4 linked regions of the Homo sapiens genome follow. The protein of the gene in region 3 interacts with the protein of the main gene of each other region in a biochemical or structural test. Each region holds a gene or a part of one and is shown on either strand. Other genes may lie near its edges. The genes, in order: DHX58, EIF2AK2, EIF6 and OAS3.

Evidence for each region.
Region 1: the proteins of EIF6 (region 3) and DHX58 form a complex in vitro, tested with the Homo sapiens proteins (one study listed by BioGRID).
Region 2: the proteins of EIF6 (region 3) and EIF2AK2 form a complex in vitro, tested with the Homo sapiens proteins (one study listed by BioGRID).
Region 4: the proteins of EIF6 (region 3) and OAS3 form a complex in vitro, tested with the Homo sapiens proteins (one study listed by BioGRID).

What each region holds. Positions count from the first base shown.
Region 1 is NC_000017.11:42,102,681-42,109,715, reverse strand, and holds part of DHX58 (ATP-dependent RNA helicase DHX58), read left to right. Parts: intron 1-329; coding exon 330-446; intron 447-1,607; coding exon 1,608-1,734; intron 1,735-1,920; coding exon 1,921-2,112; intron 2,113-3,726; coding exon 3,727-3,980; intron 3,981-4,548; coding exon 4,549-4,698; intron 4,699-4,788; coding exon 4,789-4,950; intron 4,951-5,917; coding exon 5,918-6,108; intron 6,109-7,035.
Region 2 is NC_000002.12:37,118,969-37,126,003, forward strand, and holds part of EIF2AK2 (interferon-induced, double-stranded RNA-activated protein kinase), read right to left. Parts: intron 3,697-7,035; coding exon 3,538-3,696; intron 1,172-3,537; coding exon 991-1,171; intron 1-990.
Region 3 is NC_000020.11:35,278,390-35,281,779, reverse strand, and holds the end of EIF6 (eukaryotic translation initiation factor 6), read left to right. Parts: intron 1-950; coding exon 951-1,126; intron 1,127-1,661; coding exon 1,662-1,838; intron 1,839-2,032; coding exon 2,033-2,214; intron 2,215-2,573; coding exon 2,574-2,583; 3' UTR 2,584-2,862; downstream 2,863-3,390. UniProt on the Homo sapiens protein: Binds to the 60S ribosomal subunit and prevents its association with the 40S ribosomal subunit to form the 80S initiation complex in the cytoplasm. Behaves as a stimulatory translation initiation factor downstream insulin/growth factors.
Region 4 is NC_000012.12:112,933,945-112,941,487, reverse strand, and holds the start of OAS3 (2'-5'-oligoadenylate synthase 3), read right to left. Parts: upstream 3,015-7,543; 5' UTR 2,958-3,014; coding exon 2,781-2,957; intron 1-2,780.

The sequences.
Region 1 (7,035 bases), on a different chromosome or scaffold from region 3:
ACCACGTTGGCCAGGCTGTCTCAAACTCCTGACCTCAGGTGACCCGCCCGCCTTGGCCTCCCAAAGTGCTGGGATTACAGGTGTGAGCCACCATGCCTGGCCGGTTCTATTATTCTTTTACTGGTTTATTATCTGCCTCTCCAACTCCAATCTGAGTTCCTTTGTATCCCCAGTGCCTAGAACAAGACGGGCACAGAGAGGGCGAGCAATATTTGAGTAGACGAATGCCCACATTCTCCTGTCCTCAGCTGGGATCCATCCTGCCCCAAATCTTTGACCATTGTCCCCACAGACCCTCCCTTTCCAGTAAAGTCCTCTGTTGCCCCCAGCTCTGTGCCAACTTGGACACGTGGTGCATCATGTCACCCCAGAACTGCTGCCCCCAGCTGCAGGAGCACAGCCAACAGCCTTGCAAACAGTACAACCTCTGCCACAGGCGCAGCCAGGTACGCGGGGGCAGGGACACGGCGAGAGCGGGAGCCGGTGTGAAGTTAGGACACCTAGGCTTGGGCCCTGACTCTGCCCTCACTAGCTCTGTGACTTCAGGTCACTTGCTATGTATCCAAGCCTCAATTTCTCCTTTCTGTGAAATGGGGCAGATACAGCCCATGCCCACAGCCCGCTCTTTGGATTGACTCAGAAGGCACCACTGGTGTCTGTCACATCACTGTCATGCTGGGGAGTGCACTACAAACCAGAGAGCAGGGATACTTTGTGCTGAGGCTCTACTGAGCCCTCTCTAGTGTGGACACGGCCTCGTGTCTGCCATGACTGGACTGGACAAGGACTAGGTGTCAGGTCCATAACTATACCAAATGTTACACTTGGGGTCAGGTTTGAGCCCATGCTGTGGTCTGGAGGGAGGGAGTGAGTGAGCAGATAGCTGAAAGAACCCTTGGGGGGCCATAGGCAGGTGAAATGTAGTTTTATTCAGCAGCGGCTCTCTCACACTGTCCACCTTTATCTGGGCTGTCTGCTCCGGCCCTGTGGCTCCTGCTGCCCCCACGCCTGCAGCTGCTCTCCCTGGCCGGCAAGGCCAGCTCTGTCAGGGTCAGCAGCTTAACTCTTTCCCTCTGGGCACAAGCGGGTTCCTGGCTCCCCACTGCCCACCTTCAAGGCGACCGGCTGTCCCTTGCAGGGGTTAGTAGCATTATTCTCTCTCTGGGCGAGCAAGCGTGCCCTGCCGTGCCGAGCTGAACCAAGCTCCGTGAACAGCGTCAGCAGGGCAGTTTTACCTTCTACTGACAGTAGAGTCCAGTATGAACTTACACAAACAGGTTATATAGCAAGTGGAGTACGTGCCTGCCCCCCAAACTCGCTGAGTCACTCTGGCCCGGATGTCCGCCTCGGCCTATTCCTTGACCAAAGCACGTCCATGTGCCTTACACTAGGCATCACCGTGCCCAGGCCAAAGGGTAAGAGCACATCGCGGGTGAGACAGGGCAGGACTCCCCCACACCCTAGCCGGCCTCCCTCTGGAGCTCACACCACAGCTAAGACAGATGGGTGAGGCAGTCGCGGTGTGCTACACGCCGGGGTCAGCACCCCCACTGGGTGCCCATCCTCCAACGTGTATGGGAATCCCCTCCAACTCTCCTCTTGCTCAGGATCCGTTTGGGGACTTGCTGAAGAAGCTCATGGACCAAATCCATGACCACCTGGAGATGCCTGAGTTGAGCCGGAAATTTGGGACGCAAATGTATGAGCAGCAGGTGGTGAAGCTGAGTGAGGCTGGTGAGAGGGGCAGCCCTTCTGGCGGAGGCGAGGATGTGGGAGTGGTCAGGGGCGGGGCCTGCCGGGGCGGAGGCCTTTGGGGCGGGGCCTATCCACCCCAGGGGTGGAGTCGAGTGGGACGGCCCTATGGGGCAGGGCAGGGGGCGGGGCTGTGGGCTGCTCAGACCCTGCGCCCTCTTCCCGCAGCGGCTTTGGCTGGGCTTCAGGAGCAACGGGTGTATGCGCTTCACCTGAGGCGCTACAATGACGCGCTGCTCATCCATGACACCGTCCGCGCCGTGGATGCCTTGGCTGCGCTGCAGGATTTCTATCACAGGGAGCACGTCACTAAAACCCAGATCCTGTGTGCCGAGCGCCGGCTGCTGGCCCTGTTCGATGGTGAGGGGCGGGAGGGGGCTTCGGGGCCGGGGATGATGGGACCTGGATGCGAGGTCAGAGGCCAGGGCACAGGCGCCAAGGTCGGATGGGAAGGTGCCCGTGAGGATACTGGTGGAGATCCTATTTTTCTAACCAAAATCCAAGGCCATGGGTAGGACTGATTTATTTCCTCATTTGTGAAGGTTTTTGCTTAGTTGTTAAAATTAATTAACATTGTTGACTTTTTTTTTTTTTTTAATAGTCGGGGTCTTGCTCTGTCACCCAGGCTGGAGGACAGTTGTGCAATCATAGCTCACTGCAACCTCGACCTAATGGGCTCAAGTAATTCTCACCCTTCAGCTTCCCAAGTAGCTAGGCGTACAGGTGGGCACCACCACTCCCAGCTAATTAAAAAAAATTTTTTTTGAAGAGGCGGAGTCTTGCTTTGTTGCCCAGGCTGATCTCTAACTCCTGGGCTCAAGTGATCCTCCTGCCTCTGCCTCCCAAAGTGCTGGGATTACAGGTGTGAGCCACTGTGCCCGGCCCAGATTTTTTAAAAGGATTAGCTAGGAGTGGTTCCTTTAGACTGAGAGAGTGAAGCTGAAAGTCAGAGGGTGAAATTTAAGGTTGCAAATCGCAGCACAGGCTGGGGCTCAAGAGATCTGGGTAGCAGAGGTCAGAGTTAAAAGCTCAAGGGTCATCCTGGTCACTGGGGAGAAGAGGGTTCTGGTCTGAGGTTCTGTACTGTATGACCCCGGTGTGAGGCTGGCCTTGAGAGTGGGCTCGGTAGGAGGCATCCTTTTTTGTTTTTGTTTTTGTTTTTTTGAGAGGGAGTCTCGCTCTGTCGCCCAGGCTGGAGTGCAATGGCACCATCCCAGCTCACTACAACCTCCCCCTCCTGGGTTCAAGTGATTCTCCTGCCTCAGCCTCCCGAGTAGCTGGGACTACAAGTGTGCATCACCACGCCCAGCTAATTTTTTTGTATTTTTAGTAGAGACGGGGTTTCACCATATTTGTCAGGCTGGTCTCGAACTCCTGACCTCAGGTGATCCGCTCACCTCACCCTCCCAAAGTGCTGGGATTACAGGCGTGAGCCAATGCACCCGGCCAGGGCATCCTTAAATATGTTCTTGGTGCTGCTGTGGGGGAGTTGAGCAGGAGTTCCATCCTTCCCCCACCCCCCACCCCCCACCTTCTGCACGCCTACAGTCCTATTGCTGTGAGAACCTCCTCCGCCAGTGCCCTCCCCACTCCAAGATCTGAATCCTCTGCCTCTGGGGCTTTTCTTCTTTCTCTTTCTTTCTTTCCCTCCCTCCCTCCCTTCCTTCCCTCCTTCCCTTCTTTCCTTCTCTCTTTCTCTCTCTCTTTCTTTTCCTTTTTTTCTTTCTTTCCCTCCCTCCCTTTCTTTCCTTCTCTCTTTCTCTCTCTCTCTTTCTCTTGCTTTCTTGCTTTCTTTTTTTTTTTCCCAGACAGAGTCTCACTCTGTTACACAGCCTGGAGTGCAGTGGTGCAATCATAGCTCTCTTCAGCCTTGACCTCCTAGGCTTAAGCGATCCTTCTGCCCTCAGCCTCCCAAGTATCTGGGACTACAGACATGTGCCACTACACCCAGCTAAATTTTGGGGTTTTTGACAGACCGCAAGAATGAGCTGGCCCACTTGGCAACTCATGGCCCAGAGAATCCAAAACTGGAGATGCTGGAAAAGATCCTGCAAAGGCAGTTCAGTAGCTCTAACAGCCCTCGGGGTATCATCTTCACCCGCACCCGCCAAAGCGCACACTCCCTCCTGCTCTGGCTCCAGCAGCAGCAGGGCCTGCAGACTGTGGACATCCGGGCCCAGCTACTGATTGGGGCTGGGAACAGCAGCCAGAGCACCCACATGACCCAGGTGTGGGCTTCGGGGAAAGATGCTGGCGCTGGGAGGGATTCCATAGGAGAGAAGTGCGGGGAACAGGGTCTTCAGCACAGAGAGGTGGGGGCAGGGAGACCCTGGGGAAAGAGAAAGTTGACTATCCCCAGGCAGAGGGGCAAGGAGCTAGGGGAGAGGGGCGGACACTGACCTCCCCAGTGCTGGAGCCTCTCCCAGTCTGGAGGTCCTTGGGGGCAGAAGGTTGGGCATGGGGGTCCGTAGGGAAAGAGGTGGGTGATGCAGTTCCTCAGGGCACAGGATCAGGTCTGGGGTCCCTTGCAGAAGACTATGGCTTGAGAGTTTTTCCTAGACTAGAGGGGCAGGGACCCTTAGGAGTCCCTAGGGAAGATAGGGGTTGGACAGTTACCTGGGAAGATGGGCAAGATCCTGGGGGTACCTGGGGATAAAGATGGGATTCAAGTACTCTAGGGAGATGGACCAAGATTGGGAGTGAGGGCTGAACCAGAAGAGGCTACTCTGGCAGGTGGAGTCAGTCTGAGCCTCCTCATGTACCAGCCTCTTTCTCCTCCCTGCCCTCCGCCTGCAGAGGGACCAGCAAGAAGTGATCCAGAAGTTCCAAGATGGAACCCTGAACCTTCTGGTGGCCACGAGTGTGGCGGAGGAGGGGCTGGACATCCCACATTGCAATGTGGTGGTGCGTTATGGGCTCTTGACCAATGAAATCTCCATGGTCCAGGTACTCACATCCTCCTCCACTCAGCCGCCCTTATAGGATCCTGTGTGGGGCCCCAGCCCAACTCAGGACACCCCTTGTCTCTCTTCCCAGGCCAGGGGCCGTGCCCGGGCCGATCAGAGTGTATACGCGTTTGTAGCAACTGAAGGTAGCCGGGAGCTGAAGCGGGAGCTGATCAACGAGGCGCTGGAGACGCTGATGGAGCAGGCAGTGGCTGCTGTGCAGAAAATGGACCAGGCCGAGTACCAGGCCAAGGTCTGCAGGCAGCCTGCATGCCCTGTGGGAGGGATGGGGAGGAGGGAGCCCCTCCCTGGCAGGTTTCTGACTGCACACATACGTCCCCCTGTCCCCTCTACATCTCGGGGCTAACTTTGGCCACCTAGGGAAGGTTTAAATAAGGGCCGGGGTGGGGCTGCCAGGGAAGGCAGTACCTGGACTCCAGAAGGCCTTGGGAACAGGCCTTGTCCAAGGCTCTTTATTTATCTTTGCCATGAGATACTTTATGTATCTGGAAGAGCTGCATTACAGCCTTTCTGGAACCAGGCAGAGGGGACAAGATAAGTCCACGTGCAGAAGATAAGCCCAGAACTAGGACTTATATCATCAGTTCCCCTGAGGCAGGGCCACCACCATCCTGCCTTGTCCAGGGTGCTCCCTGTTGTCCCAGCATAATTGTTAATGATGCCCCATGACAGATTCACAGAAGCAGCTTTGCCTAAAGTCCTTCAAGATTGAGCAGGAAAGCTTACCCCTCCCACTGTTGCCCCCGACTACTCATACTGTTTTTCTCCATAGCTGTTTTTTTTTTTTTCCCCGAGACGGAGTCTCACTCTGTCACCCAGGCTGGAGTGCATGGCACAATCTCCACCTCCTGGGCTCAAGCAATTCTCTTGCCTCAGCCTCCCGAGTAGCTGGGATTACAGGCATGCGCCACCATGCCCGGCTAATTTTGTATTTTCAGTAGAGATGGGGTTTCACCATGTTGCCCAGGCTGGTCTCGAACTCCTGACCTCGTGATCCACCCGCCTTGGCCTCCCAAAATGCTGGGATTACAGGCATGAGTTACTGCATCATCACAGCAATAGAGCTTCTTTTAAGCTCCAGGGAGGGTTAAGGAAAGTCTCTTCCAGGTACAAATGATCTTAGTTCTTTGGGAACCTTTTGTCCCCCAAGGAACGTTCTCTTAGGCCCCAGCCATGCCTGGTGTCTCCTCCCACCCCAGATCCGGGATCTGCAGCAGGCAGCCTTGACCAAGCGGGCGGCCCAGGCAGCCCAGCGGGAGAACCAGCGGCAGCAGTTCCCAGTGGAGCACGTGCAGCTACTCTGCATCAACTGCATGGTGGCTGTGGGCCATGGCAGCGACCTGCGGAAGGTGGAGGGCACCCACCATGTCAATGTGAACCCCAACTTCTCGTGAGACCTGTGGAAGGGGCTACTGGGATGGGGGCCTGGGAATCCTTCCCATCCAGACAGTGCTTTGAAGCTTTGGGAAGCTAAAGAGCATTGTAGCAAGTACTTTGCATTTTCACAATAATCTGGTTAGACAGGTTTTATCCCTGTCTCCATTTTACAGGCAAGGAAATAGAGGCTCAGAGAGGCTATGTGACTTGCCCAAGTTCCCACAGCCACTATCTGGTTGAGCAAGAACTGGAATTCAGGATACTAAGTGTCAAAAGACCACACATTGACCCTCTGGTCCTACCTATTCCGAAGATATCAAGAGAGCTTGGCCATCCCTGGGCCATCCTCCATCCACTATCTCCTAGAGAGTAACCTTCCCCCATCCTCCATCCATTCATTATGTTACCCTCTGTGTTCCGGGCCACTGTGCCAAGGATCTTCACACAGATTTTCTCAATTGAGGAGGTTGCATTTCAGCTAGGTCTCAATGGGTCTGGTTTGAATGTGAGCGAATGAGAAGGTAACCATGGAGGGCCAGGTGCAGTGGCTCACGCCTGTAATTCCAACACTTTGGGAGGCGGAGGTGGGTAGATCACTTGAGGTTAGGAGTTCAAGACCAGTCTGGCCAACATATTGAAACCCCTTCTCTACTAAAAAAAAATACAAAAATTAGCTGGGCGTGGTGGCCCATGCTTGTAATCCCAGCTACTTGGGTGGCTGAGGCATGAGAATCACTTGAACCCGGGAGGCAAGCCAAGATCGCACCACTGCACTCCAGCCTGGGCAATAGAGTGAGACTCTGCCTTTAAAAAAAAAAAAGCGACACCAGTTGACCTGAGTGGAAGGGACTGTGAATAATGAGATTTAGAAAAAGACAGACTAGCCCGTGGAAGATTTGAAAGGTCAGGTGTGAAAGTGTAGCCTTTATCCAGGAGGTTC
Region 2 (7,035 bases), on a different chromosome or scaffold from region 3:
AAGGCTCAGTAAAGGAATTACAACCAAAGGGGGCAGGCAGAAGAGTGTCCCATGAGAGAGAAGAACATGAGCAAAGGTCCAGGGACAGGATTCAGGACGGCCAGCTTGTGACAGGCTTAGGCAAGTCACAGGGAATAGGGAATGGAGGAAAGGCTGTGAAGGGCTATTCTGTCTCTCACCTTCTGTCATTTTAATGAGAAGTAAAAAATAGGGAAACTCCTTGTCCGGACCATAAAAGCCAGAGGAAAATGAAAATACTAAGGGATGATACACTTTCCCAGTCCGGGATTACCGCAATTTTCCAATCATGGGGTTGAAATGCTTAACCAAGACAGTATTAGACTCTGGACCCAGTAGCTGTGACAGCCCTCGCGAGTAATGACTGAGAGATTAGGGAACCATATTCCTAAAGCAACAGTCAACAGAGTCCCCTCTGCCTCTCAAATAAAGCTGAGTCACTTAGAGGAGGCAGGAGGAACAGGGGCAGAGCAGCCAGTTGGCTGTGCCAGTCACAGTAATTATTTGCATGGAAATGTTCAGATACCATTTTCTCATAACTATCAATCAACCACTATTCTAAAACTAGAGAAAAAAATATATATCTATCTATCTTATTTTATATATATATATAATTTTTTTTTTTGAGACAAGTCTCACTCTTCACCTAGGCTGGAGTGCAGTGGCACAATCTTGGCTCACTGCAACCTCCACCTCCCAGGTTCAAGCGAATCTCCTGCCTCAGCCTCCCGAGTAGCTGGGATTACAGGCGCACGCCACCATGCCCAGCTAATTTTTGTATTTTTAGTAGAGACACGGTTTCACCATGTTGGCCAGACTGGTTTCGAACTCATGACCTCAGATGATCTGCCTGCCTCAGCCTCCCAAAGTGTTGAGATTATAGGCGTGAGCCACTGTGCCCAGCTGAGAAGATATATTTTAAAATTACTATATTATATATATATCAATTAATAAAGTACATTTTCCACTTACCTTAAGATCTCTATGAATTAATTTTTTTGAATGTATATAATCCACCCCTTTTGTTATTTGTTCAAAGAGTTCCAAAGCCAAAACTTTGTCTAGTTTCTCGCCTCTTCTTTTTTCAATCCATTGTTCCAAGGTCCCTTTATCACAGAATTCCATTTGGATGAAAAGGCACTTAGTCTTTGACCTGGGTATAAAATTCACAGTATGTTAAAAGTAACAATAAATATAAATTTATAAAAAATTTTTTATAACTTTTTAAAGTTTTTCATAACTTTTTAAAAGCTTATACCTTATCTTCTTAAGAACCCCAAAAACACTTTGGGAGGCCGAGGCGGGCGGATCACGAGGTCAGGAGATCGAGACCACGGTGAAACCCCGTCTCTACTAAAAATACAAAAAATTAGCCAGGCGTGGTGGCGGGCGCCTGTAGTCCCAGCTACTCCGGGGAGGCTGAGGCAAGAGAATGGCGTGAACCCGGTAGGCGGAGCTTGCAGTGAGCCGAGATCACGCCACTGCACTCCAGCCTGGGTGACAGAGCGAGATTCCGTCTCACAAAAAAAAAAAAAAAAAGAAAAAAAAAGAACCCCAAAACATGTCACAAAATAGAAATCTAAATATAATAAACAAATTTGAATCAAAATATAATAGGCCATTTTTTATTTCAATCATAAGTTCCCGGATGTCCAGAGCTTTATTTGTTTAGCTAATTTATAAAATATGAGCTGGGCTGGGCACGGTGGCTCACGCCTATAATCCTAGCACCTTGGGAGGCCGAGACTGGCGGATTGCTTGAGCTCAGGAGTTTGAGACCAGCCTGGGCAGCATGGCGAAACCCCATCTCTACTAAAAACACAAAAATTAGCTGGGTGTGGTGGCGCGGCACCTGTAGTCTCAGCTACTCGGGAGGATGAGGCACGAGAATCATTTGAACCCAGAAGGCAGAGATTGCAGTAAGCTGAGATCACGCCATTGTGCTCCCGCATGAGCGATAGAGTAAGACTCTGTCTCAAAAAAAAAAAAAGAAGAGGCCGGGCGCGGTGGCTCACGCATGTAATCCCAGCACTTTGGGAGGCCGAGGCGGGTGGATCACGAGGTCAGGAGATCAAGACCATCCTGGCTAACACGGTGAAATCCCGTCTCTACTAAAAATACAAAAAATTAGCCGGGCGTGGTGGCGGGCGCCTGTAGTCCCAGCTACTCAGGAGACTGAGGCAGGAGAATACTGTGAATCCGGGAGGCAGAGCTTGCAGTGAGCCAAGATTGCACCACTGCACTCCAGCCTGTGCGACAGTGCGAGACACCGTCTCAAAAAAAAAAAAAAAAAAAAAAACGAGAAGAAAAAAAAAATGAGCCACCCATTCTTCATTGCTGAAGATCTGCAATCACCATTGCTAACAGATAGAAATAGGAACATGAATACAATGCAGGAAACTAAATTTCATTATTATATAAAGTAACTTTGAAACCTTTTAATTCACCATTGATCTACTAAGCATGAAAGGCACCTAGAGATGAGAAAATCAGTTAGACACTATATCCTTGCCGTCACGGGGATAATAGTCTAATAGGAGAGAGTAAAGGGAAAGCAAACCTAAAACAATAGGGAAGGTACTCTAAGAGAAGTGCCAACAAATTACTAAGATACATAAATTGGAGGCTTGATTTTTTTTTTTTTTTTTTTTGCTAACCACGTTTTATTTTTTTTCTGAATTAAGTTAGCCTCAATATTCATTTATATTCTTTGTATATATGTCAGCTTGAAAACAGGAAGAGGTAGCCAAGAATTTGCTGAAAGCTGAAGTCCTGTATGCTGACGGTCAATAACTCCTGAACTGATGATAATGTTCTCACTTACACGACATGGAGATGGAGGTGGGGCAGGAGAAAATGAATGAATGGGACCCCATTGGCCTCAGGATTTTAGTGAGAGGACTGTCCCCATAATAGGTTGGGTGACTTTCAAAGACAGATGCCAGCTCTTTAGGATCTCCAGTTGTTTGGCAATGGCTTAACTGACATAAAACATGAGGGTGCCCCCATCTCAGCTTGTGGTCTTAAAAATATTTTCACTCCCCACCACCCCAGCATAAGTGGTATAGTTACATTCCAAAGAGACCCTCTGACGGCACCACACCAATCACAGCCTAAGAGAGGGACAGAAAAGTGTTGGTAGCTGAGGAGGGAGCCCCCAGATGCAGCATCTATATGTTAAAACTCTCTTCACAAGACTACACTTAAACAGCCTGCGCTGAAGCCGGCACGTGAACAAGGCTCTCCATGAAACAATGGAGTCAGGAAAGCTGAACCTGAGATTTTGCAGACAGCTGAGGATGTAACAGAGGGTTGTGAGAGCAAGTCTGCAGCAAGAGGAGGAGCAAGGAAGAGATTTTCACTTTCTCCTTACCTTCGGAATGGAGAGATAACAGTGTCTCTCAGAGGGAATTGTGATAATTAATCGTGATGATTAATAGCCTTATCCAGTGGCCCATACATAGTAAATAACAATTTCCTTCCATCCTATTATGGCTATGAGAATTTATTTTTAGTTACCTTGAACTATTTTTGCTGTTCTCAGGATCATAATCACTGCTCTCAAGAGAATCATCACTGGTCTCAGGATCATAATCAAATCCATCCCAACAGCCATTGTAGTGAACAATATTTACATGATCAAGTTTTGCCAATGCTTTTACTTCACGCTCCGCCTTCCTAGTTAAAAGGAACAGGGAACATGGCAGTGTCAGTGTACATCCCTCATAACAACCACAAAACACCTCATGTAATAGACAACTGTCTACATTCCCTTATTAAACCATTGCTGTGGTTCTCACATAGTTTTAGAATGGAAGCCAGGACATTCAAAAGGAAAAAGTGAACATACTGAAAAAAAACATAGCAGTTCTCACTCTCAAGATAAAATAAAAGGCAGTGGCCGGGCGCGGTGGCTCAGGCCTGTAATCCCAGCACTTTGGGAGGCGAAGGTGGGCGGATCACGAGGTCAGGAGTTCAAGACCAGCCTGACCAACATGGTGAAACCCCATCTCTACTAAAAATACAAAAAATTTAGCTGGGCACAGTGGCGCATGTCTGTAATCCCAGCTACTTGGGAGGCTGAGGCAGGAGAATCGCTTGAATCCAGGAGGCGGAGGTTGCAGTGAGCCAAGATTGCACCACTGCACTCCAGCCTGGGCAAAAGAGCAAGACTCTGTCTCAAAAAATAAATAAATAAAAGGCAGCGACTTAATGCCAAGCATCAGACAATTTAAAAATCATCTGTAGTACTCTTGAAATGCCAGTGATGTCATTTTAATTAATTTATTTATTTTATTGAGACAGAGTCTTGCTCTGTCACCCAGGTTGGAGTGCAGTGGCACAATCTTGGCTCATTGCAGCCTCAACCTTCTAGCCTCAAACAATTCTCCCACCTCAGTCTCCTGAGTAGCTGGGACCACAGGAGCACACCACCACACCCATCTAATTTTTTCTATTTTCTGTAGAGATGGGGTTTTGCCACGCTGCCCATGCTGGTCTCAAACTCCTGGGATCTAGCAATCCACCTGCCTCAGCCTCCCAAAGTGCTGGGATTGCAAGCATGAGCCAATGGACCCAGCCAGTGCAATTTTTCATAGCTAAATCATACATTATGTTTTGCTTAGATTTGTGTTAAAATCTTTGTATTTCACAAGCAAACCACATTTAGGCAGCAAGGCTAGGTAACCCAGGCAGTGTGAAGTACCTAATTCAGGATTTTCAATGTGTGGCAAATATACACAAAGAGGATAACTTATGCAGAGAAGGTGAAATGGTGGAAGGCTTTACAGGGATGTGTTGCCAAGACCTAAGAAAATTCCATGCTAAGTGCAGTAAATAAATTGGAGATTTCAAAGATGAGGAAGAATAATCATTTTACAATTTTATTTTTTAATGCAAGAAGTTTTAAAGTATATGACACAAATTTGCAAAAATAAAAAAAATTACTGATACTTTGACAATCCTAAAATAATGTTATTTTAGATTCTTCCTTTTTTTTTTGAGACAGGGTCTCACTCTGTCACCCAGGCTGGAGTGCAGTGGCAATGTTGGCTCACTGCAACCTCCACCCCTAGGGCTCAAGCGATCCTCCTACCTCAGCCTCCCTAGTAGCTAGGACCACAGGCACACACCACCACACTTGGCTAGTTTTTATATTTTTTGTAGAGACAGGGTTTCTCCATGTTGCCCAGGTTGGTCTCGCACTCCTGACCTCAAGTGATCCACCAGCCTTGGCCTCTCAAAGTGGTAGGATTACAGGCCTGAGCCACTGCACCCAGCCAGTCATTTTTTTTGAGAAGAGTCTTGCTTTGTCGCCCAGGCTGGAGTGCAATGGCGCGATCTTGGCTCACTGCAACCTCCGCCTCCTGGGTTCAAGCGATTCTCCTGCCTCAGCCTCCCAAGTAGCTGGGACTACAGGCGTACGCTGCCATGCCCAGCTAATTTTTGTATTTTTAGTAGAGACAGAGTTTCACCATGTTGGCCAGATGGCCTCAGTCTCTTGACCTCGTGATCTGCCTGTCTTGGCCTCCCAAAGTGCTGGGATTACAGGCGTGAGCCACCATGCCTGGCCCAGCCAGTCATTTTTAATGGCTGCAAAACAGCCATCGATCAGGGGACAGAACAAAATATATATACTCATTTCTTTACTGCTGGATATTTTGTTTGTTCTAACTTTTTACTGTTAATGAATGACACTGTGATTTATATCTTCTTGGATATAAATCCATAATTTGAATAACATTCTTTTTTTTTTTTTGGAGATAGGGTCTCACTCTGTCACCCAGGCTGTAGTGCAGTGGTGTGACCATGGCTCACTGCAGCCTCCACCTACTGGGCTCAAATGGTCCTCCCACCTCAGCTTCTGAAGTAGCTGAGACTACAGGCGTGGCTACCACACCGGCCTAATTACTGTATTTTTTGTAGAGGTGGAGTTTTGCCATGTTGCCCCAGGCTAGTCTCAAACTCCTGGGCTCAAGTGATCCACTCACCTCAGCCTCCCTAAATAGTATTCTTTTTATTATTTTTATTTTTATTTTTTTTTGAGAGGGAGTTTCGCTTTTGTTGCCCAGGCTGGAGTGCAATGGCATGATCTGGGCTCACCACAAGCTCCGCCTCCCGGGTTCAAGCAATTCTTCTGACTCAGCCTCTCGAGAAGCTGAGATTACAGGCATGCGCCATCACACCCAGCTAATTTTGTATTTTCAGTAGAGAGGGGTTTCTCCATGTTGGTGAGGCTGGTCTCGAACTCCTGACCTCAGGTGATCCGCCTGCCACGGCCTCCCAAAGTGCTGGGATTACAGGCGTGAGCCACCACACCCAGTCCCTAAATAATATTCTTAGAACTCATCCCCTAGAATGACAAATTACGGGGTAGGGCCTATTTGGCCTCCCCTTGAATCTAAGCTGGCTTCAGTGACTTGTTTAACCAATATAACTTGATGGTAGTGACGTTCTGGAACTCCTCAGATTAGGTCAAAAGAAGCCTTGCCACTCACTCCTGATCTTTTGGATGACTTGTTCTGGGGACAATCCTTCTTGAAACCCAGCCACCAAGTTGTAAGAAGCCCAATCCCCATAGGGAGGCCATGTGGAGGTATTCTGATTGACAGTCCCAGCTGAACTTCCAGCCCACAGCCGGTGTCAACTGCTAGCCAGCTTGGATATCCAGCCTAAGATAGGCTGTAGTCAAGGTTTCAGATGACTACTGACTGCAAATCCCTCTGAGACCCCAAGTGAGAATTGTCCAGATGAGCACAATCAACCCATGGAACCATTAGAGACAACAATAAATTGCTGTTTTTAAGCACTGCATTTTGGAGCAGTGCCTTATACAATAACAGACAACCAGAGAACAATTACCATCTAGCTTTTATCTTAGACAAAATCACTTCACATCTCTGGATCTTAGTTTCCTCATCTATAAAATAAGAAGGTAAGACTAGAACATCTCAAAGATCACCTATTTTGTGGGTAATGATAGGTTCTATCTGGTGCCACGGTTTTTAAAATACGGAG
Region 3 (3,390 bases):
GGAATTGATGACTTGTAAAAATTTTAGTCATTCTGGCTGGGGGCAGTGGCTCACACCTGTAATCGTAGCACTTTGGGAGGTCGAGGTGGGCGGATCACCTGAGGTTAGGAGTTCGAGACCAGCCTGGCCAACATAGTGAGACCCCATCTCTACAAAATCACAAAAAGTTAGCCAGGTGTGGTGGCACGCACTTGTAATTCCAGCTACTCAGGAGGCCGAAGCAGGAGAATCACCTGAACCCAGGATGCAGAAGTTGCAGTGAGCTGAGATCGCACCACTGCGCTCCAGCCTGGGTGACAGAGTGAGACTCTGCCTTAAAAAATAATAATCTAGCCATTCTGCTATGTGTGTAGTGTTAGCTCAGTTTTTTTTGTTTTTTTGTTTTTTTTTTTTGGAGACGGAGTTTCGCTCTGTCACCCAGGTTGGAGTGCAGTGGCGCGATCTCGGCTCACTGCAAGCTCCGCCTCCCGGGTTCACGCCATTCTCCTGCCTCAGCCTCCCGAGTAGCTGGGACTACAGGCGCCCGCCACCACGCCTGGCTAATTTTTTGTATTTTTAGTAGAGACGGGGTTTCACCGTGTTAGCCAGGATGATCTCGATCTCGATCTCCTGACCTTGTGATCTGCCCACCTCAGCCTCCCAAAGTGCTGGGATTACAGGCGTGAGCCAACACGCCCGGCAGCTCAGTTTTTAAGTAGCAAAATATACAGCTAATGCCAAGAGCTCAGCTTCCCTCCCAGTTGGTGATGGTGAAGTAGGCAGGATTTATTGGGATTCCTGGGTGGTCTCTGGCCTGCCCTGGGTGTTTTCCAGATCAGTGGGTTGGAGGGCTGGGCTCTGGGCCTAAAGCTTTCCTGGGAAAGCTGATTGGGCTGGGCTGAGTGGTATCCTCAGCCCCTAGGGCTCAGCAGGCATCTTGTGTATTCACCCTCTAATTTGGGTTTCTCCAGGGAACAGGCACGGTCTCCTGGTACCCAACAATACCACCGACCAGGAGCTGCAACACATTCGCAACAGCCTCCCAGACACAGTGCAGATTAGGCGGGTGGAGGAGCGGCTCTCAGCCTTGGGCAATGTCACCACCTGCAATGACTACGTGGCCTTGGTCCACCCAGACTTGGACAGGGTGAGGCAGCCCAACTTGACCCAAGAGTCACAGGGCCATCCTAGTCAGTGGTTAGCCACTGTTCTTTCCCAACAGGCAGCAATTAGGGGTCTCTCCTGTGGTTTTTCTATATGGGCTCTTGAGTTTCAGGTACTCATTGGAATAGTGATAACAGAGGCCTTATCAAGTGTCAGAAAGAAGCTGGGGAGGGTATGAATCCTTCATGATTGGGGAGATTGAACCATCCAGTCCTGCATCCTGGGCCAGGATAGGTGATTGACTGTTGAACTTTTGACTGTGGGTGAGAGGGGAAAGAAGTGATATTGAGACCAGCCTCCAGCTGTTCAGGGCATGCATGAATATTAGGGGCTTCACAGCTGCCCTTGACTCTGCTCTAAGCTGTACTTCCTCCTTTCTCTGGGTGAGGCTTTCATATGAGGTACAGAGGAGAAATGAGGGGCTCAGGGAGCCAAGGCCTGGATGCTTCTGGGCATGGAGAACCTTGGTTCTGGGGCTGTAAGTTCTGAGCCCTGAACACAATATCTTTGATTGACAGGAGACAGAAGAAATTCTGGCAGATGTGCTCAAGGTGGAAGTCTTCAGACAGACAGTGGCCGACCAGGTGCTAGTAGGAAGCTACTGTGTCTTCAGCAATCAGGGAGGGCTGGTGCATCCCAAGACTTCAATTGAAGACCAGGATGAGCTGTCCTCTCTTCTTCAAGTCCCCCTTGTGGTAAGCATTCCTGTCCTCTGAACCCCGTCTCCCGAGGCAGATCCTTTTGCCTAGTGTTTGGGAGTCTGGGTCATTACCTGCCACAGTTTGGGACTGGGGCTGCAGGTCAGGGAGGAGCAGGGTTTGGGGAGAGTCTTCATTGAGGAGGGAGAGAATTTGGTGCCGTGACTCACATTGAGCCCATCCCTTGGCAGGCGGGGACTGTGAACCGAGGCAGTGAGGTGATTGCTGCTGGGATGGTGGTGAATGACTGGTGTGCCTTCTGTGGCCTGGACACAACCAGCACAGAGCTGTCAGTGGTGGAGAGTGTCTTCAAGCTGAATGAAGCCCAGCCTAGCACCATTGCCACCAGCATGCGGGATTCCCTCATTGACAGGTACCTGGGGCCTCTCCTTTCTTCTGCTCAGGGTTGGGGGTTAACTTGCATTTTGAGAGTATGGGGAAAAGATGTCATCTAGAATGGGAGCCTACCAGTTTGTTCTGGTAGCTTCTCGAGTGTGAGAGCATATCTGTACACTGCTGAGCAGATAAGAGCCAGCATATTCAAAAAATATTTCTTGAGCATCTGCTAATCCTCATCTTTGTGGTTTTTCAGGGCTAGGATACTAGAGCAGTAGCTGCTTGAGCAGCTTGTCAGAGCTGGTCCCGGGATGAGGGCTGAGGCAGGCACCTCACTTGAGAGTGAGGTGGGCTCTGTGAAACAGCTACTGACCGTGCGCTTTCCTTTCTCTTCAGCCTCACCTGAGTCACCTTCCAAGTTGTTCCATGGGCTCCTGGCTCTGGACTGTGGCCAACCTTCTCCACATTCCGCCCAATCTGTACCGGATGCTGGCAGGGAGGTGGCAGAGAGCTCACTGGGACTGAGGGGCTGGGCACCCAACCCTTTTCCACCTGTGCTTATCGCCTGGATCTATCATTACTGCAAAAACCTGCTCTGTTGTGCTGGCTGGCAGGCCCTGTGGCTGCTGGCTGAGGGTTCTGCTGTCCTGTGCCACCCCATTAAAGTGCAGTTCCCTCCGGGCCATTCTGAATGTGATGTTTGGGGCCCTCAGCCTGTGTACAATCCCTGCACTCTCCAGTTGTTCCAGCATTCTGGGAAGATAGGGTGGGATGAACACAACACACACCCAACCCAGTTCACCACCTCCACACACGCCATTCCCTTCTCCTCTACCATCAGGATGTGAGGCTTCATCCTGGGGCAAGAAACACTCTCCACTACAGTTCTCCTTTTTTCTTTTTTCTTTTTGAGGCAGTGTCTCCCTCTGTCACCCAGGCTGGAGTGTTGTGACGCAAGGATGGCTCACTGTAGCCTTGACCTGTTGGGCTCAAGCGATCCTCTCGCCTCGTTTATTTTTTTGTAGAAACGAAGTCACTGTGTTGCCCAGGCTGGTTTATACTCCTGAACTCAAGCGACCCACCGCCTCGGCCTCCCAAAGTGTTGGGATTACAGGCGTGAGCCACGGCGCCCGGTCTAGTTCTCACAGTTTTCACCCGACTTCTGCGCCGGTCTTCTCTGGCCTTGAAAGGCAGAGAGTCCGTTCCGATTTTC
Region 4 (7,543 bases), on a different chromosome or scaffold from region 3:
AGTGTGCTGGGGAGAGACTGTGGCCACATGGCTGTAGGCATTGAAGCCACGCGGGAATGTGGGCCCAGGGTAGCCAGGCTCGAGATTTCAAGAGAAGCAATTTTAACATGTAAACTCATGATTTTTTTTCCATAGAAACAGGGTCTTGTTCTGTCACCCAGGCTGGAACACATAGCTCACTGCGGCCTTGAACTCCTGGGCTCGAGTGATCCTCCTGCCTCAGCCTCTCAAGTAGTTGAGACTACAGGCACACGCTACCATGCCTGGCTAGTTTTTACATTTTTTTAAAGAGATGGGGTCTTGCTATGTTGCCCAGGCTGGAGTGCAGTGGCTATTCACAGACACGATTGTAGCTCACTGCAGCTTGGAATTCCTGGGCTCGAGTGATCTTCTTGCCTCAGCCTCCCAAGTGTCTGAGACTATAGGCATGCACCACCGTGCTGGGCTAAATCCATACTTGTAATTTTATTTTTATTTTTAGTTTTGAGACAGAGACTTACTCTGTTGCCTAGGCTGGAGTGCAGTGGCACCATCTCAGCTCACTGCAACCTCCATCTCATGAGTTCAAGTGATTTTCCCACCTGAGCCTCCTGAGTAGCTGGGACTACAGGTGTGCGCCACCATGCCTGGCTAATTTTTGTATTTTTAGTAGAGATGGGGTTTCACCATGTTGGCCAGACTGGTCTCGAATTCCTGACCTCAAGTGATCTGCCCTCGTTGGCCTCCCAAAGTGCTGGGATTACAGGCATGAACCACCATGCCAGGCCTATATCCATGATTTTTAAATGTTGGCAACTAACTTTTTAAAAACTCAAGACCGCAGGTAAAACAAATTCTGCTTTGCAGAACACACATTTGCAATCTTTGCTCAGAATGGGTACAGAACTGTGGTATGACTCAATTTCTGAGACCTGTGTGATTAGTGTTTCTTTCGGCAAAGCTTCCAACCTGAGGATTTGGAAAAGAAACTCCTAAACATTGTCAGAGCCACTGTTCTGTGTCTGGGATCTGACGTCTCTAATCTCACTTCCAACACAAAACAACTGTGATGTAGTTACATGTGGCTGCAGATATGGGGAGTGAGGCTCAGATGGTGAAATGAGTTACACAGCCAGTAAACAGCAAGAACCAGGATGGAGCCCTCCAGGAGCAAGGCTTGCCTCAAACTGGGACCCCCTACTTATCCCGATGATTATGCCAGTCCTTTTACTACCAGCTCCCACCATCTGGGGGCTGCTGACAAAGTGGGAACAGGGAATATTACAGGCTGGGCACTTCCTGCACGTTTTGCACACTCTCATCTCATTGAACCTTCCTCACAGCCCCAGAAGGAAGGTACCACTTTACAAAAGAGGAAACGAAAGCACAGGGAGATTGCACCGTGCTCACTTTACAAAGGAGACAATGAAAGCACAGGGAGATTGTGCTCCAGAACCCCCTCCCACCCCTTTCCAGGGAAGCTAAGGATGCCAGGGCTTTCCCTTGCTGCACAGAAATCCCTCCTGTCCATCTCCAAGGTAGAAACGGGACTTCACACCTCCTAGGCGACAAGTGTCTCCTCCTTCCCCACCTCCCAAGCTGAGAGTCAGCCCCAGGAAACCACTAGGTGCTCTGAGGCCATTTCTACTCTGCGTTTTCACTCCCTCTCCTGACAACCTCCTCTAGCACACCCAGGTTCCCTCCATCAATCCACTCCTGGCACCCCCAAATCTACCCTGAGGATAAGGTAGCTCATGACTTGTCTCCTCCCTGAATCTGCGAGTGTCCTGGGATCACAGTGGCAGTGTGGCTGTATTTAAGTGACAAAAAGTGACCCGGAGCCTGGGCAACATGGTGAAATCCCGTCTCTACAAAAAATGCAAAAATTACCTGGGCATGGTGGCTCACACCTGTAATCCCAGCACTTTGAAAGGCCAAGGCAAGTGGATCACTTGAGCCCAGGAGTTCCAGGCCAGCCTGGGCAACACGGCAAAACTCTATCTCTACAAAAAATGCAAATAATTAGCCAGGCATGGTAGTGTGCACCTGTAGTGCCAGCTACTTGGGAGGCTGAGGTGTGAGAATAACTTGAGCCCAGGAGGCGGAGGTTGCTGTGAGCCAAGATCATGCTACTGCACTCCAGCCTGGGTGACAGAGCGAGACCCTGTCTCAAAAAAAAAAAAAAAAAAAAAAAAAAAAAAAGATGTGACTCAGAGTAGTAATTTAGCGTCTAGCCTCAGTTTCCCTATCCATAAAACAGGTACAATAATACCTGCCTCACTGAACGTGGGGATGAAATGAGGTAATACTCATTTAATGAGATAATTTTCATTGTTATTTGATAATGTCTCAATAAATTGGGCTACTCTGGCTGTTACGCGGAGTGTTATTACTTCTGTAACCTTAAGGTCTGGCATAGTGTGAGGCCCACAGTCTGTTTGAATGACTGGGAGAATGAGTGAATGAGTGAATGAATGGATAAGAAGCAGCCTCTGAGAGTAGAGATGCAGGAATCAGGCTACTTGGATTTGAATCCTGGCTGGGCCTCTTACAGGATCGGACACGTCACTGTACCTCTCTGTGCCTCATTTTCTCTATCTGTCAAGCGGGCTTAAGAGTACCTACCTGGCTCGTATGTTCGGGGGAGTTAGCACGGGGCTGGCACATTGGAAGTATTTGTTAAAGAAATGAATGAGGTGCACAAGCGGATAAAGCCACCCCCACCGTAAGCCTATGTGAGGCTTAAGCGTCCTCCCAGGACTCCCCTTTGGACACATAAAGACCCCGAGGTGGGACCTCACCTTGACAGTTTTCAGCACCCGCGGGGCAGCAGCACCGAGGCGGCCCCCGCGCTCCCTCAGGGCAGCGGCCAGGGCGCCCAGAGCGCGCCGCGCCTTCTCTACGAACTCCTTCCGCGGCTGCAGCCTTCTGGCCACGAACCTGTCCAGCGCAGCGGCCGGGGTGCTGTACAAGTCCATGGCCGCCCGGCGCAGGTGCAAGGGGAAGCAGGGCTCTGGCGCGGCCTTCGGATTTCTGGTTTCGTTTTCCCGCCCGGCTCTCCGAACCACGCCCAGCTGGCCAGGTCCTAGGTCCTCGGTCCCGCGCGTGGCGTGAAACGGGGAGGGGCGCTGCAGTTCCTGTCTTCCCCAAACTTGGGAAATTCCCTGCTTTCAGTTTCGTTTCTTTCTAGCAGCTCTTGGACCTGACACCCACTTCCTGGTCCCCTTCCCAGCTACGACTTCCTCTCCTTCATCTCCTTGCTTCCAGCCGTCCCTGCAACCACCAGCTCCAACGAACTAATCACAACCTAACAAAGTATACCCACAGAACATATGGGTACATACTGAGTAACGTACTCTGAGCATTTCAGAAACGTGCAGGTTTTACATGGAAAAAAAAGGTCAGGATTTAATAAACGGAGAAGTCCTACCTCGCTGTCTGACTGAGGGATGCGTTCTAAACACCACTACCACCACCAACGATAATAAAGCACACTTGGAGACTCTCACTGACTCCTCCCAACGACCATGGTGTAGGTGCTATTATCATCACCCATTTGACAGATGAGGAAGTCAAGGTACAGAGGAACTAGGTAACTGTCCAAGGTAACACAGCTGGAAAGTTGTCTGGCTGGATTCAAACCCAGCCCAAGCCCACAGAGCTGCCCTCTTCAGAAGCCAACTCTTCCTAAATAATTTATACGTGTAATGCAGTTCCAATAAAAATTCCATCTTTAAAAACTTCAAACACACGATCTAAAGTCTGTCTGCAAGAATTAAAAATTATTTTGGAGGAGAAGGAGGAAGGAAAGTCAGTCAGTTTAGGATGGTACCTTGCACAACAATACTACATATTAAAACATTGTAAAGCTACAATAGGGAAATCCTCTTGGAATGGGCACAAAGCTAAGCGGACTGTAAGCTATAAGCTGCAGAGTGGAGATTTGAATCCAGGACCATTGCGCTTCTATCTTCATGGCCTGTCTCCTTTTTCTGCTTATTTCCTGCTGCTTCTCCACCCGGGTTCCTAGAGACTGCACACCTGAGCTCTCTTCCAGGCCTGGTCCAAGCCATAGCCTATCTCCTCCTCCCCATCTTACTAAAAAACTCCCAGGTCCTCTCTCCTGTCTGCTCCGGGACCCAGCATTTACTCTGCCTCTGAGTACACTTCAGGTAATAGTCTTAACAAGTGCTTCCTGACATCTGCACGGTAACTGAAAGGAAATAGATAGGATCAGAGTGTGAATTTCAGAGGTCATGGTCAACTAGAGGGAGAGATGCTGGGTCTGTAATATGTACACCAGCTAATATTTTGAGTAGTGAATGCTGCATCACTTGGAATATTCAAGTATGGGCAGGTTTTGTAGGTCAGGTGTTGTGGTGGGGATTTAAGTCAAGGGATTGAGCAATGATTTTCATTCTCGCCCATTAATCACAGTCTTCTTCCTGAGTCACAGGCCACTTTAGAAACTTTCCATTCAAGATAGTGGATTGAACACATGCTCAAAATTCTATTAAAATAGCAGCAAAGATATATTAAAAGCATAATGGAAATCAACAGGGTTGGAAACTGAGAAAAAGTGGAGTCAAGGGGGCGGGACATTTGAGGCATTTTTAGAAGATGGAACGCAGAAGGGTCAATATTGGGTCATGATGGTGGACTGAACATATGCATAAGCCTTCAACGTCCATCCCAGGCCTCTAGAGGTGGCAGGAAAGCGATAGAAAAACTTTAATAATGTTGCTGGGTCCTAACCAGAGGTGTCCCAGGTAAACTGGAATCTGAGATCCCTGTCAGAGATATGAGACTGGATGAAGGAGGAAATTGCAGCCAAAACACATAAAGGAGGGGGTACCTATGCAGAGTGGAAAGGCTCTGAGGAGCTGCAGGCTCCAGGCAGTGGATTGAAGGAAAAGAAGGGACCCTAGGTTAACTCTCATGGTTGTCAGTTGTGCTGGCATAGTAATGGCAGCCTCTAAAGACATGTGGTCTCCCGCCCCAACCTTTCTGTGTTGAGTAACAGGCAGCAGAGGTGCCTGCCTAAGGAGGGAGCAGTGAGGGTGGGGCAGAGAGGCAGGGAAGTACACAGCATACCTGGCCACATCTGGAAAGAACAGGAAGTCCTGTATGCAGAAGACTCATTCCTGGCACATCCCCTTTCCTCATCTCTGCCTCCAGCTGCAGTAAGAAGGTACCAACTTCACAGGGAGACAAGCAGAACATCCCCAGTGAGCAAAAAGCACACATCCAAAGGTGCCAAATTATTTTGGGAGATCCAATGCTATGAACATAAAAACTCACATGTAAGGACACTGAAATAATCAATAAAGGAGAAAGAGTCTTCTGTGGTCTAAATTTGTCCCCCAGAATTCATGTGTTGGAAACTTACTCCCCAATGCAGCAGTTGGGAAGTGGGGTCTAACAGGAGGTGTTTGTGTCATGAGGGCTCTGCCCACGTGAGTGGATTATGGCCACTGTGAAAAGAGCTTGGAGGAATGGGCTCATTGTCTTCTGCTTTTCTGCCATGTGAGGACATAGTGTTCCTCCCCTCCAAAAGACACAACATTCTTCAAGGCGCCATCTTGGAAGCATAGAGACCAGGTCCTAACCTGCTGAAGCCTTGGTCTTGCACTTCTCAGCCTCCAGAACTGTGATAAGTAAATTTCTGTTCTTTACTAATTTCCCAGTCTGTGGCTTTCTGTTTTAGAAGTACAAATTGGACTAATACGGTCTTAGAAATATATAATTAATATCCTCAGAGGGATTAGATATTATATCCATTATAATTATTCATTGTATTCATGATTATTCATCATATCCATGAAATAAGAACAGTGATGAAAGTCAACAATCACCACTATCACATTGGAAGTGAAAACATAATGCAAAATAAAACCAAAGATGAACAGAAAAACCGAACCTTCTCCATAGATAGGCTGAATAAATATACCTGAAGATAAAATCAGTAAACTGGAAGATGGAATGGAGGAAATTACTCGAGATTACAGGAAAGCAGAACATAGAAAAGAAAGGTATAAAAGACAACTTATGAGATGTGGAAAACAGATCCTTTCCTTATTCTTATAAATATTTATTAAGGCCAGGTGCGGTGGCTCACGCCTGTAATCCCAGCACTTTGGGAGGCCAAAGCAGGTGGATGACCTGAGGTCAGGAGTTCGAGACTGGCCTGGCCAACATGGTGAAACCCCGTCTCTACTAAACATACAAAAATTAGCTGAGTATGGTGGCAGGCACCTGTAATCCCAGGTACTCAGGAGTCTGAGTCAGGAGAATCACTTGAACCCAGGAGGCAATGGTTGCAGTGAGCCAAGATCACACCATTGCACTCTAGGCTGGATGACAAGAGTGAAACTCTGGCTCAAAAATAAAATAAATAAATAAATAAATAAATATTTATTCAGTGTTTTCTTTATGGTAGCCACTGGTCTAGCACAGAACATGTGTGGTGAATAAGTGAAAAGGCCTCTGCTCTCATGGAATTTATATTCTAACGAGAGAAGATGGACAAAAAATTAATAAGCAAATAGAAAATGTTGGATTCATGGCTAGATAAAATCTTAAGCACAGGGGTTTTCTTGGGGTGCTTGGAATTAGAAGGCATATCTGGACAGGTCACCCACAGTTGTGGGTGTAACAAAATGACTCAGAATGTCTGTTACACATTCTGTTACTTACTACGGTCAAATATATTCTTGGTTGATACAGTAGCAAATCATCTGCTGTTCTCCTTGGAAAACTATTGCTTATTGCCTATATATAAAAGGTGACAGTATCCTCCTACAGATACTCTCTCTCTTTTTGCCTGTCTGCTTAGTCAACTCACTCACCACCTTGTACTGGCCCGGGAAGAAATTGCTGCTGGTTTCTTTTTGAAAAAGAATATTCTTTCTTTCTTTTTCTCTTTTTCTCTCTTTTTCTTTCTTTTCTTTTCTTTTCTTTTCTTTCTCTCTTTCTTTCTTTCTTTCTTTCTTTCTTTCTTTCTTTCTTTCTTTCCTCTCTTTCTCTCTCTCTCTTCCTTCCTTCCTTCCTTTTTTTTTTTTTTTTTTTTTTTTTTTTTGAGACAGCCCAGGCTGGAGTGCAGCAGTGTGGTCTCGGCTCACTGCAACTTCTGCCTCCCAGGTTTAAGCAATTCTCCTGCCTCAGCCTCCCGAGTAGCTGGGATTACAGGTGTGTGCCACCATGTCTGGCTAATTTTTGTATTTTTAGTAGAGACGGGGTTTCACTATGTTGGCCAGGGTGGTCTCGAACTCCTGACCTCAGGTGATCCAACGGCCTTGGCTTCCCGAAGTGCTGGGATTACAGGTGTGAGCCACCATGCCTGGCAGAAAAAGAATCTTCTGATGCATCAAAAGAATAAGATGGATTCATGGATGGATAGAAGGATGAAGAAATTGTAGATATGCAATCAAGCAAGTGCAATAAAACGTTAATTGTAAAATCTATGTGGTGAGTATATGAGTGTTCACTGCAAAATTCTTTCAATGTGGCTGTTTGCTTGGAAATTTTTCTTAATGAAATGTTGGAAGAAACTGGCAAACTATGG